Homo sapiens: one gene and its partner. The protein of the gene in region 2 interacts with the protein of the main gene of each other region in a biochemical or structural test. Each region holds a gene or a part of one and is shown on either strand. Other genes may lie near its edges.

Region 1 (7,037 bases), about 17 Mb from region 2:
TTCTGAAGACTCATTACATAGGGATTTCGAGTAACTGAAATGGAAAATCACATGTCAAAGGAAAAAGTAAAGCTTAGGAACTGAGTCACACAAAAACTGCCTTCCTTTTATTCCTAAACAGATAGCTGCAAAATAGAAGGCCACCTATCTACCCAGGTAGACTCTCTTGCAAATTGCTCACAAGGAAATTCCTCGTAGGCCCCAAAATCTTTACACCAACCCAGAGTTCTGCTGAATTTCACTCTGACAAGATACGGACAAAGACCAAAGATGACTAGAAATCATCCCTTTGGAGACAAATGTATATTTGACTTCTTCCTCTACTCTGCTTACTTTATCCTATGTAAAATGCAGATTTATTGAGCTTGAGATGAATGCATAACTGACTGTTCCTCTACCCCCACCTTTCTCATGCGACTTGTGGATTCAGTGAGTGCTAATCAAAGCCTCACAAAAATGTGATCGCTTATCTCATTACCTACCCTCCTTTTTTTTTCTTTCCTCTTTCCCCTCCTGCTGTTCTCTCCCCTTTATACACTGAAGTCCTCAAAACCTCTTCTGGAAAAGCATAAGCCACAGATTCTACTGTAACTTTTGTCTCTTTTTCCTTGGCACATCCTCAACCTTGGCAAAACAAACCTCTAAATCGATTGAGACTTGCCTCAGTCATTTTCTTCAGTTTACACTACCAACAGAGAAATGAACCCTTAAGGTTCATTATACACGTGTCATCGATACGAATTAAACAGACAAACCACAAACTCCTAAGATTATGAAAAAACAAAAAGATGTTACCAGCAGAACACTGCTATATGTTGTAGAAATTATTCGTTCAATCTAATTCATTTGTTTTTCTTTTTAGTACAAAATGATCCACATGTCAGAACAAATTGTTTATACAAATCTAAAAATAACTGCACAAGGTGTAGATGTGTTGTTTAAATAGTTTTTAGACATAGGATGCATCTAAACAATTCAATGTTATCTAAACTGCATTTTGTGTATCTAAGAGTTTTCACCAAAAAAAAATTGGAGGCAGTTATTTACTTAAGCAAAGAATGAGAATAAGGTCATTTAGTCAATAGTCTAATTAGTTTGGGGTAAACAATAATACCCAATTCTGTCATTTTGTCACTGAGAATTCAATGTTTTTAGAGTCATAAGATGCAAACAATAAGCAATTATATTCAGTGTATGGTTCTATTGTGTAAATATCCTCTGATTCAAGTACTGGGCATTACTAACAAGCAAGTACATTCTCTTTGGAGTAACTGAAATGGAAAATCACAAATTATGAAGCTTCTCAAACGTAACAGTAAAGTACATTAGTAATTAGTTAAGTGCAAATATATTTCAGAAAAATTATCATCAACGCTTATCTTATGATTTCTTTATTATAACTGAAACAGCTAAAATCACACACCTGAACATTGTCAAGAATCTCCTGGACACGAGTCAGTAAAGCTTTCTTCCTGTTAACCTGCTTTCTTGCTTCTACATCAAGTGCTTTCTGCTTTTCTTGTTGCATTTCCTTTCTTTTCTCAATGTTAAGCTGCAAAACATCATAAAAATGTAATTATTTCCCACGATAAAAATATCATAAAATCGGGAAGTTGTGAATCAGAAAGATTAAAAACATGTGCAACAGGCAAAACTAATGTATAGTGAAAGAAATCAGAACAATGGTCTGGGTACTGAGTGGGATGGGGCATTAGAGATCTTTCCATGGTGAAGAAAATCCTGTGTGGGTGTGAGTTATACATGTGTATGCCATATATCAAAACTCATGGAACTTTAACACTTAAGATTTGTGCATTTTGCTATGTGTAAATTATTTTCAGTTAAAAGGTTAAAAAGAAAAAAGTTTGTTCACTAATCAAATGTTCTAAAATGACAGAAATAAAATTAAGGCCCTTTTGGCCACTGCTGAGTTTTTTATTACTTCACTTGAATATTGACTTGAATATTACTTCACATTCAGTATCCTTTTTTTTTTTTTTTTGAGATGGAGTCTTGCTCTGTCACCTAGGCTGGAGTGCAGTGGTGCGATCTCGGCTCACTGCAACCTCCGCCTCCTGGGTTCAAGCGATTCTCCTGCCTCAGCCTCCGGAGTAGATGGGCTTACAGGCGCGTGCCACCACGCCCAGCTAATTTTTGTATTTTTAGTAGAGATGGGGTTTCACCATGTTGGTCAGGCTGGTCTCGAACTCCTGACTTTGTGATCTGCCCACCTCGGCCTCCCAAAGTGCTGGGATTACAGGCGCGAGCCACCGCGCCTGGCCCATCTTCAGTATCTTATTTCACTGGATCAACTGGATTCTACAACTTTTAATTTTCTAACCAGTGCACAATTTAACTCTTTGCTGCCTCAAAAAATGTCCAAAGGTTTAATGATAAAATAAACAGATAATATATTATTTGCCTACAAAAGCAGAATACATCTTTTCTTTCACCTCACTCTACCTTCTGATAAAAATATAATGTACCTAAAAAATGGAAGGCTTCTAAGCATTGTATCTCTTTATAATGGATTTCAATCTTAATTATTAAGTCCTGGGAAATTAAATCACTGTTAACAGTCAAGACTTATCGTAGACTTACACAAATAGAAAATATATCATTAAAAAATTATTTCAAAAGTTGCAATATTCACCTATCAAATACAACATAAAAGTGTGGATTAGGTCCATAAACATCACATTTTGCTTATAAATAAATAACAGACGGAGTCATAGACCCTACACAACAAGCCTCAGACATTTTGGTCCACATTAAATCAAGCAATGTGTTATCAAATAGCTGATAAATATGTTGTTTTAAAACTTTTTCCTAATTGCATGGTACCAAAGAATGATTATACAATTTACTTGCTAATCAAAAGGAGAAAATGTGTACTTTAAAGAGCCATCTGGCAGTCACTACTGTAAGCAAGTGTTCAAACTAAACATCACTAATAGAGGGCAACTAAACATTATGTAACTTCTGATTTAATTTAGTATGAAGTGCAGGGCATCATCTCCAAAGAATTCCTTTTTTTTTTGAGATGGAGTCTCAGGTTGGAGTACAGTGGTGCGATCCCGATCCCTCCTGGGTTCAAGCGATTCTCCTGCCTCGGCCTAACGCACAGCTGGGATTACAGGCACCCACCATCATGCCTAGCTAATTTTTATATTTTTAGTAGACAAGGGGTTTCGCCATGTTGGCCAGGCTGGTCTCGAACTCCTGACCTCAAGTGATACACCCATCTCGGGCTCCCAAAGTGCTGGGATTACATTTTTTTTTTTTGAGAGAGGGTCTCACTCTGTTGCCCAGGCTGTTGTGCAGTGGCTCGATCTCGGCTCACTACCTTTGCCTACTGGGTTCAGTGGATCTTGGCTCACTGCAACCTTCGCCTCCTGGGTTCAAGGGATCCTCCTGCCTCAGCCTCCCACATAGCTGGGATTACAGGCATCCACCACCACGCCCAGCTAATTTTTGTATTTTTAGTAGAGACGGGGTTTCGTCATGTTGGCCAGGCTGGTCTCAGCCTCCCAAAGTGCTGGGATTACAGGCATGAGCCACCCCGCCCAGCCCTATCTTCAAAGAATTCCAAAAATCTTTAACCTGTTTATCAAACTTCACTTCCAGTTCATAGGAACTACAGGGACTAGAGAAACAAGTTAAATAACACTATTAGGAAACAATGGGACAAATCCAAGATCTAAGGAATTCTACAAGACAATAGCTCTGGTCTCTTTAAAAATTCAGTATCATAGTTTTGTTATTTTTTTAAAGACAGTATCTCACTCTGTCACCCAGGTTGGAGTGCAGTGGCATGATCAGGGTTCACCGCAGCCTCAGCCTCCCGGGCTCAGGTGATCCTCCCACCTCAGCCTCTAGAGCAGCTGAGACTCCTGGTGCGCGCCACCACACCCAGCTCTTTTTTGTATTTTTTGTAGGGATGAGATTTCACCACGTTGCCCTGACTGGTCTCAAACTCTGGGGATCAAGCAATGCAATCCACCCACCTCAGCCTCCCAAAGTGCTGGGATTATAGGCGTGAGGCACCATGCTCAACCAATAAAAAAAACTGTTTTTAAGACGTACAGTAGCTATTTTAGATTAAAATAAAGAAACATAACAAGCAAATACTAATTGTGAACTTTGGATCCAGATTGGGGGAATAAAGTTATAAAAGGCATTTTGAGCACAAATGGAAAAATTTAAATATGAACAGAATTATTAGATATTATTAAAAATTATTAGTTTTCTTAAGATGTGATAATGGTATTGGGGCTTTACATAGGAGAATGTCCTTATTTTTAAGAGATGTACACCAAAATATTTAGGGGAGCAGTGTCAGGTCTCCGTGGTTTTCAAATAGCTAGGCAATTTTTAAAAATGTCATATGTACACACACACATAGATGTATATAAAAATCACAAACACAATAAAGCAAAGATGACAACAATGTTAAAAATTATTTAATCTAATGGTAAATCTATGGGTGGTCACTGCACTATCCTTTCAACTTTGCTGTATGTTTGAAAGTTTCATTACAAAAAGTTGGCAGTTAGCTCTGGTGTCTTTAAAAATTCAATTCAATTAATTAAAATTAATCTCTTAACTCCTGTTATACCAAAAAATAAATTTAAAGCTCACTTTTTTCTAATATTAGTTTGTGATTTAAAATAAAGTCATATGCATTTTTAAAATATCCAATTAGTATCAAAGGGTGTATGATGAAGTGTCTTCCCTATTATCCTATATTCTCTCACCACTCCCCAGAAAAGGAATAGCCATCCTTTGAAAAACCCAAATGGTTAACTTATATTGGGTACCTCTTATGATCCAGGTGGTATTCTAACCATTTTATATCTACGAATTCATTTAATCTTCAAAATAGCCTTATGAGGTAGGCACTATTTTATCCCCATTTAACAAATAAGAAAATGGACCACAAGTTTACACAGCAAGTAAGTAGCAAAGCAATGATTTGGACCCAGGCCAGAAGGCTCCACAGCCTAGACTTTTTTTTTCCTTCTTTTGGGATAGGGTCTTGCTCTGTTAGCCCAGGCTGGAGTTTTTTTCCTTCTTTTGGGATAGGGTCTTTCTCTGTAGTCCAGGCAATGATGCAATCCTGACTCACTGCAGCCTGCAACTCCTAGGTTCAAGCGATCCTTCCGCCTTAGCCTTTGAAGAGCTGGGACTACAGGCACATGTCACTGCGCCAGGCTAATTTTTTAACATGTTTTTATAGAGATGAGGTCTCACTATGTTGACCAGGCTAGTCTTGAATTCCTGGTCTCAAGCAATCCTCTTCCTTCCGGTCTCTCAAAGCATTGGGACTATAGGTGTGAGCCACTGTGCCTGGCCCAGAGTCTGGACCTCTAATCATGACTCTATACTGCCCCTGACAGCATGCTGCACACGGTGTTTTACACTAGATCATTGAGATCCTTCCATGCCTCAACATTTACATCTGCCTTACTGTAATGGTATGTATGAGAGTTTATAAAATAGACCATAGTTAAACTACTCCACTACTGATGGACATTTAGGTGGTTCGTCAACCTTTGCTATTTTAAACAATGCTAATGTAACTTTGTACTTATTTCTTTGGGCTCACATATAATTGTAGGATATACCCAAAAATGGAACTGCTGACCCAAAGGCTATGTATGCTTTTAAATTCTACCAAACTGCTCATCTAGAAATAAAATAAACTGATTCTCTTAGCAAAAGTGCATTAAAAGTGCATTTTCTCCACAATCTAAGGAACACAAAGTTCTATTAGGTCTTGGCCAATCTATAATAGTAAGTAAAAAATGCTAATTCATTTGTATTTCTCTAATTCTGAATGAGGGCATCTCTTCAAATGTTTATAAGCCTTTCTTTTGTTTTTCCACGAACTGTTTTAGTTGTTCACTACAGAAAAAAACTATTTAAAAACAAAGCAAGTTTACCAGTGGAGAAAGGATAGCCACTCCATGAAAGCGAATAAGTGAGATACTTTCAGACTGAGCAGGGAGAAAGCTCTCTGTGGATAGTGATGCTTCTTGTATTCTGGCAAGACTTTTTTCACAGAACTTCTCATACTCCTCCATCTTCCCACAGTCACACTACAAGAGAGAAAAATGTTATTTTTAATGTACTGGGAAAAACAGATCTTAATTATTTGGCAGATTTTGTAGAGCATGAGAGAGTCCCTATAATTCACAATTCCTATAACTGGTCCTCCCAGAATTGTCTTACTGATCAGGAGCTAATTCTTGGGTATGGTAATTCACCTCAAGAACCTGTCCAATTAAGATTTACTTTATATATTAAATATTTCTGAATATTATTGCATGTAAATCAATCTTTAAATGGGATTAATTTAGCTAAGAATTCAGTAAAACCTTCTTAAAGGAAACAAAGTTCTGTAAATCTTTACTAACTTCACATTGTAAAACAGGATATTATATTTTCTTTAACAGGACTTATCTACACAAGAAAAACTATATCATACAAAGGTACAAACACTGTAGTAAAAAAGCCTACTTAAATCAAAGAATATTTACTTTTAAAAATTTTCTATTTTGAAGTTCAGAGGTTACTCTCATATCTTTTTTTTTTTTTTTAAAGAGACAAGGTCTCACTATGTTGCCCAAACTGGATTCCAGTGACTATTCACAGGTTCAGTCACAGTGCACTATAGTCTCAAACTCTGAGACTCAAGCAATCCTCCTGCCTCAATTTGCCTATCTTAACACTATACTTGGACTGCATGAGCACCAGCCAACTCAGTCAGAGGTAAAAAAGAGCAAATCGATTGGCTCTGATATTAATTATATTTTATTGTTGAAAATTGGAACCATCACCAAACTACTTAAAACAATCCCAGTAATTTCACAGTTTCTGGGAAATTGTGATTATGAAAATACAAGGTAACCAGGAGGGATTAGGCATCATATTCATTCATTTAGCAAACAGTAAATGTTGATTGCTTATTTGCACAGCATTATGTGTGGCACTGTTTCCTTTAAATAAGCAAGGGAAAATAAAAAGACATTATC
Region 2 (5,945 bases):
AAGTGAGGAAGGCAGCAGGGCCCCATGTAGTTGGTGTTAACAAGAATAAACAATTAGGGGGCAAGAAATCCCAGGCGGTAGCTGAAAGAAAAACAGAGCCTGGGGTTGCTGTTTAAAGATGGGACAGGTGAGTCCATTCCATAGTCGTTAATGGGAAGGTGCCATCGCAGAGGGGAAGGAGGGCACAAAGGGAGTTGTCAGGGAGGTTGGGACCCAGGCAGCTCTGGCCCAGCGCTCCGGGTGGGCCCCTCCATCAGCGGTGGGGGAGGGTGACGGTGGCCCTGCCTCCCTGGAGATTCTCTGTGAAGGAGGAGGCAGGGAAATGCTCAGTCAGCAGGTGGGTGATGCAGGAACCCACCCACCACAGGCAGGCGGGGCCAGGTCCCCCTGGAGTGGTTTCCTCCTTCAGGTGCAAGCTGGGAGAAAGCAGAGAACTGACTCCATGCAGAGTTGGGATTAAGAGCCCCTGGACAAGGGGCCGAGGCAGTGAAGGACGTCCATCACTCATCTGCCACTATCCTCCTCACATTTAATCCTCACAACACCCCTGTGAGGTAGGTATCATTGCCCCCCTTACAGATGAGGAAACTGAGGCTCACACATGCCCAGGGGCACACAGTCGACAGGACGGGTCTACAGTTCCAACGCTTGGGTTCTCACCCCGACCACACCCCACCCAGGGTGGCCAGAATTCCCTTATAGTAGCAAAAAGACAGCTGCCGCGGACATGAACACACATAGCACCAGCACACATAAAAGCAGCAGCTCAGTGAGCATCTCCCATCCCTGGGTTTCCGGTTCAAGAGCATTTGGGGGCCAGGCGCCGTGGCTCATGCCTGTAATCCCAGCACTTTGGGAGACCGAAGTGGGCGGATCACTTGAGGTCATGAGTTCGAGACTAGCCTGGCCAACATGGTGAAATCCCGTCTCTACCGAAAATACAAAAATTAGCTGGGCGTGGTTGGGTGCTTGTAATCCCAGCTACCCAGGAGGCTGAGGCAGGAGTATCCGGGAGGCGGAGGTTACAGTGAGTTGAGAGTTGAGATCATGCCACTGCACTCCAGCCGGGGAGACAAGAGCAAAACTGTCTCCAAAAAAAAAAAAAAAAAAGCATCTGGGGGACACTTCTGGCCAAGTGGTTCTTTCTTACATTTGCAGAGTAAACAGAAGTGGATGGCAGCAGGGTGTGTTGTGGTCAGCCCGTTCCCAGGGAGAGGCCATGGTCACATGGCCCCAGGCAGGCTCCCCAGGCGTGGGCTGCTGGCTCCCAGGCTCCCTTTCCATGCAGGAGCAGAGTCTCCGTGGCCAGCAGGAAAGCCCAGGGGTCTGCCTCCCTCCCACGGGCCCCCACAGCAGAGCTGCAGTTGGGATCAGCCAGGACACGGCCCCCGACTGCTCTGCTCTTCTGCCTCTTGGTCACCTCAGATGTTACAGAGGACTTGAAGTTTTTTCTGGCTAGCCTATCTGGGAAAATTCTTTTTGCATAAAGTGTGTCAGGATGGCATTGAGGGGCTGGAGTAAGATTTTTGTTTTGCAGGTGAACCTAAATAATGGTGGGAATCTCTTGTTTTTTTAATACCTTCTGTTTTAAGTTTTTCTTTTGTTTTCATCTTGGAAGAAGGAAATTTAGAAATAAGACAGGAAAAGAATGGCCCAGAAATTCAGCACAAAGAGAGGTGTTCACATTGACGCCATCTGTGGGTCACATACGAACGCCTCTGGGACAGAGCTCTAAAACGAGTCACGTGTCGTAGGGAGTGGGCCTGTGGCCAAGGCAGTCCTCGCAGTGTGCAGGGACGCAGGCCCCCTTACCATGGAAGCCCCACCCAGAAGGAAGTGGGTGCCCCATGCAGGCCGAGGTGGATGAGGGGACAGTGGTGTGCTCACAGCTGTCAGCTCCCCACTGAAGCCCCAAACCAGCAGATGTGGGCAGGGGCTCAAGTGGTGTCTGACTACCCAGGTCACACGTGCCTTAAGCGTGAAAGCTGTCAGCTCCCGGCACGGGGCTCTGGTGGGGCTGGGAACACCAGGACACACATGGGCTGAAGCTTCCAGAGACAGTGAGACACGGAAGGGACAGAGAGGTGCCCTCCACACAGTGTGGCCAACTGCTTCCAGGCTAAACTTTCCAAAGAGAGGGATCTGAGCTCTTCACCCTCATTTCAACATTCTGATGGCTTGCACGGGACTCCCGCGGAGACAGAAACTTGGTGGCCGCAAGTCATCCTCTCTGCTCTCTGCGCAAAGGCCTCCATGGTCTATGCAGCGTTCCTATGCTATGCTCCCACCCTTCGCCTCCAGCCCCCTCAGTACACATCCACTGCGGCAAATGTGCTGACACACTTACAGCCTCACAAGGCCCAGGTTCATGTCCTCCTCCTCACTGTGTATGCATAGGTTTATCCGCTTCACCTGTTGCTGGGGAACACTGCTCTCCGGGGGACTTGGGGGACGACACTGTAAACATGACTTCCTGGCCTGATGGTGGCAGGGCTGTGTGTGCGAGTCACTGTCCAGGGACAGCACTGAGGTAGGTTGGGGCAGGGCCCCCAAGCCACCGTCCACGGAGCTTGTGGGACTTGCGGTGCTGACGGAGGAGTACCCTGAGGTCGTGACGTCCTTCCCTGGCTCCCGGCTGGTGCGGACCAGGGGTTTGGGTCCAGGGGTTGCAGGGATCTGGGTGTCCAGCGCCAGTGCCTGTGGGTCCTGGGGTCCCTTGTCCTCTGGACAAGCCTCCTCATCACTGGATTCCTGGCAGCAATGCTGTTCTGGGTTCAGGTAGACCACGGTGACATCGAGGATGCCGCTGGGAGCTGTCACTGCAGGAAGGTTGGTGGGGAGGGAAGTCATGTCACACCCAAGCATCAGGGGAGACCCCCTGCCAGGTCAGGACCCTGAAGTCCAGGTCAAGAATCTTCTACCTTGCTACGGTCCCCTGTGTTACCCTCCTGTGGTGAGAAGCGTGGGTGACATGCCTCTTCCAAGTTGGACAGCTGCCCGCCATGACTCCAACAAATGTGGAGATGACAAGTTGGCCATCTAGCTCAAGCCAAGTGGACGCAGAAGCAAGCAACCGGGAAACTGACAGGACTCACACTAACTGGGCTTCTGGCAAGGACCCCGCAGTCTGCCTGGGGTTTGCACAGGGCAGTGATCCCAGCAGGGCAGTGAGGAGTGTCACGTATACCACGTGGGCACACCTCAAACAACATTCTAGAAAGAACGCCCAGGCTACAGTGCAGTGGCATGATCACGGCTCACTGCAGCTCCCACCTCCTGTGCTCAAGAGATCCTCCCACCTCAGCCTCCTGAGTAGCTGGGACCACAGGCGCACGCCACGATGCCCAGCTAATTTTTAAATTTTTTGTCTTGCTGTGTCACCCAGGCTGGTCTTGAACTTCTAGCCTGAAGTGATCCTCCTGCCTCAGCCTCTCAAATTGCTGGGATTACAGGCATGAGACTACAGGCCTAGAAGGATCTCCATGAACTCCAGACAGGGTCTCTGCCTCCCTCATCCTAGTGAGGTCCTCCCAACACGGAATGAGCAGGAGCCGGATAGGTGTGGCCTAAGTCCTCTCATCCCTGTGTGGTGGGAGCAGCTGTGGTCTTTTGGGGGCTCTCCCCTCCTCTCTCCCCATGTCTGGACACACTCCCCGGCGGGGCAGGAGCTGGCCCCACCCCGCACTCTGTGCACATCTTCCTCCCACAGCGCTCGCACAGGGCCGGGTGCCCAGAGGCCCTCGGTGAGAGCCACCCTCTGTGTGATGTCCCTTCTGGTGCACCCTGGCCCCACACTCACCGTCGCCCTCCTTCTCGCCCTCACTCTCCTGGTCGCCTTCATAGCCAGAGCAGCAGTCCAGGCTCCAGTCGAGGAAGCTGCCCAGCAGCGTCTCCTCCTGGCTGGACAGCTCCGCAGTGGGGGTGGTAACGAAGCTGCCTCTGTCTTCCTGGAGGCTGTTCTCCCGCTTCCTGCAAGGTGGAGAGAGCCCAGGAGACCCAGTCATGGACGGCGGCGCTGGGAGGCCAGGCCCTCCACACCTGCCTCTAACACCCGCGTGCCCCAGCCTGTCACCACGTGCTCCCAAAGGTTCTGCTACGAAGAAGATGCCGGTGAAGCTAGAACAGGTATAAGCCCTTCAGGCAGGGCCAACCTGGAGGACAGCTCAGGCAAACTCAGGCCCCAGGTCTGGGTGTGAAGCCCAGCCCACCCGGCTCAGCTGTGGGGCGTGGGCCAACCATCTGGTCCCCTGGAAACCTCTAGGATGATGCCACCTTCCAGTGTTTTTTTTTTTTTTTTTTTTTTTTTGAGGTGTTCTTGCTCTGTCGCCCAGGCTAGAGTGCAGTGGTGTGATCTTGGCTCACTGCAACCTCCACCTCCCGGGTTCAAGTGAGTCTCCTGCCTCAGGCTCCTGAGTAGCTGGGACTACAGGTGCCCGCCATCACACCCAGCTAATTTTTATATTTTTAGTAGAAACGGGGTTTCACCATGATGGGCAGGTTGGTCTCGAACTCCTAACTTCAGGTGATCCGCCCACCTCGGCCTCCCAAAGTGCTGGGATTACAGGCATGAGCAACCGCACCCGGCCCCTCTGGTGTTGATTAATAAGGTGCAGGCAGTGCTTAGCCCGGCGCCAGGCAGATTGCATGGAATGGCCTGGCCTTGGGCGGTGCTGACACCCACACCCAACTGGGGTCAAGTCTTGCTCAGGATGGGGCTAGAGGCCAGTGTGTGGGCGTGAGCCTGGGAAAAGCCGCCACACCAGCTGAGCCTTTCCACTTCCTGACCCCAGGGCCTGGTGGAGGGCGGGGGGTGGAGAGAGCTATCCCAGTGTCACCCGTGGGGGTCTGTCTCAGAAGACTGATGGGGCTGTGGGGGGCCTCTGAGAAGCGGGTTTAACACAGCGAGGCTGAGCACAGGGCCAGGGCCAGGCCCCCTCCTGGAGTAGCCGTGCGTATCTGCATGGACTTTCCTCGTGATGACCCTGGCCCCAGGGAGTCGGTGCGTGTGTGGAGTGACACAGGAGGGTCAGGTCTCCTGCCTTCCACACAATGGAAAGTGCTGTCACGCTTCTTGGGGAGGAAGCAGCAGCAGGGGCTTTGGCTGCTTCCCCAGGGCTCCCCAGGAGTTGAGGTCTCCTGCCAGGAGCCCACTCCCGACACAACGCTTCTGGAGGCAGCCCTGCCTGGTCCTATATTGACAGGAAAGACCCAGCCACCCAGTGCCTGCCCTTGGGAAGGTTACTGGTGCACATGGTGCTGAGGGGTCACGGCGCAGGGCCAGCAGCACAGGGAGGGCCCTGTTCATCGGGGCCTTGTGGAATCAGTAGGAGTTCTCCAGGCGGGTGAGGTAGAAAGAGGAAGTTAACTCCAGGAGGAACAGCCAAGGTGCTGAGATAGGAGAGGCGGGTAAACAGGTCCACACGGGTGGCGAGGGAAGTGCTGGGGATGTGACTCAGGTCACAGCTCGAGTGCCGGGAGTGACAGCAGCATCATGGAGCAGAGAAGTCCAGGACGCGCATGACAGGCACGGGCAGGGCTAGAGCCAGGCTAGGCTCCCGCGTGCTCGAAACCATCTTCCTCCACAGGGAGCCCAGTCAGAGCGAGAGGCAATAGCCTCTGAGGAAGGAGACCTGGGCTGGAGACAGTGGAGGTTACGCAGGGGCCCGAGGCATGACTGCAGGGCTCCGTCCCAGGGTCACTGTCCTGGGATCTGCTGCTCCCCTGACAAGCCTTGGGGGCCTCTCTGTGTGAGGAAGCGCTGAGGGAACTGGGCCGGCACGAGGATGCCAGCATTGTATGGCGCAGCCAGAACGCAGGGTAACTAACCGTTTGGTTCTCCGCCCCGAGGGAGAGCTGAGGAAGGCGTGGATCTCCCCTGTGCTGAGGAAAGTCGGGGGGTCGGGGCTGTCTTGTGTCACTCCTAATGCAGCACACAACTGGCTGTA

What was found. The genes of interacting proteins can lie anywhere in the genome.
Region 1: of the proteins of CCNF (region 2) and CCP110, one has a biochemical effect on the other in vitro, tested with the Homo sapiens proteins (one study listed by BioGRID).

What each region holds. Positions count from the first base shown.
Region 1 is NC_000016.10:19,526,931-19,533,967, reverse strand, and holds part of CCP110 (centriolar coiled-coil protein of 110 kDa), read right to left. Parts: intron 6,102-7,037; 5' UTR 6,087-6,101; coding exon 5,946-6,086; intron 1,553-5,945; coding exon 1,424-1,552; intron 1-1,423.
Region 2 is NC_000016.10:2,453,419-2,459,363, reverse strand, and holds the end of CCNF (cyclin-F), read right to left. Parts: coding exon 5,827-5,945; intron 3,970-5,826; coding exon 3,800-3,969; intron 3,299-3,799; exon of another isoform or gene 2,820-3,298; coding exon 2,344-2,819; 3' UTR 510-2,343; downstream 1-509. UniProt on the Homo sapiens protein: Substrate recognition component of a SCF (SKP1-CUL1-F-box protein) E3 ubiquitin-protein ligase complex which mediates the ubiquitination and subsequent proteasomal degradation of target proteins.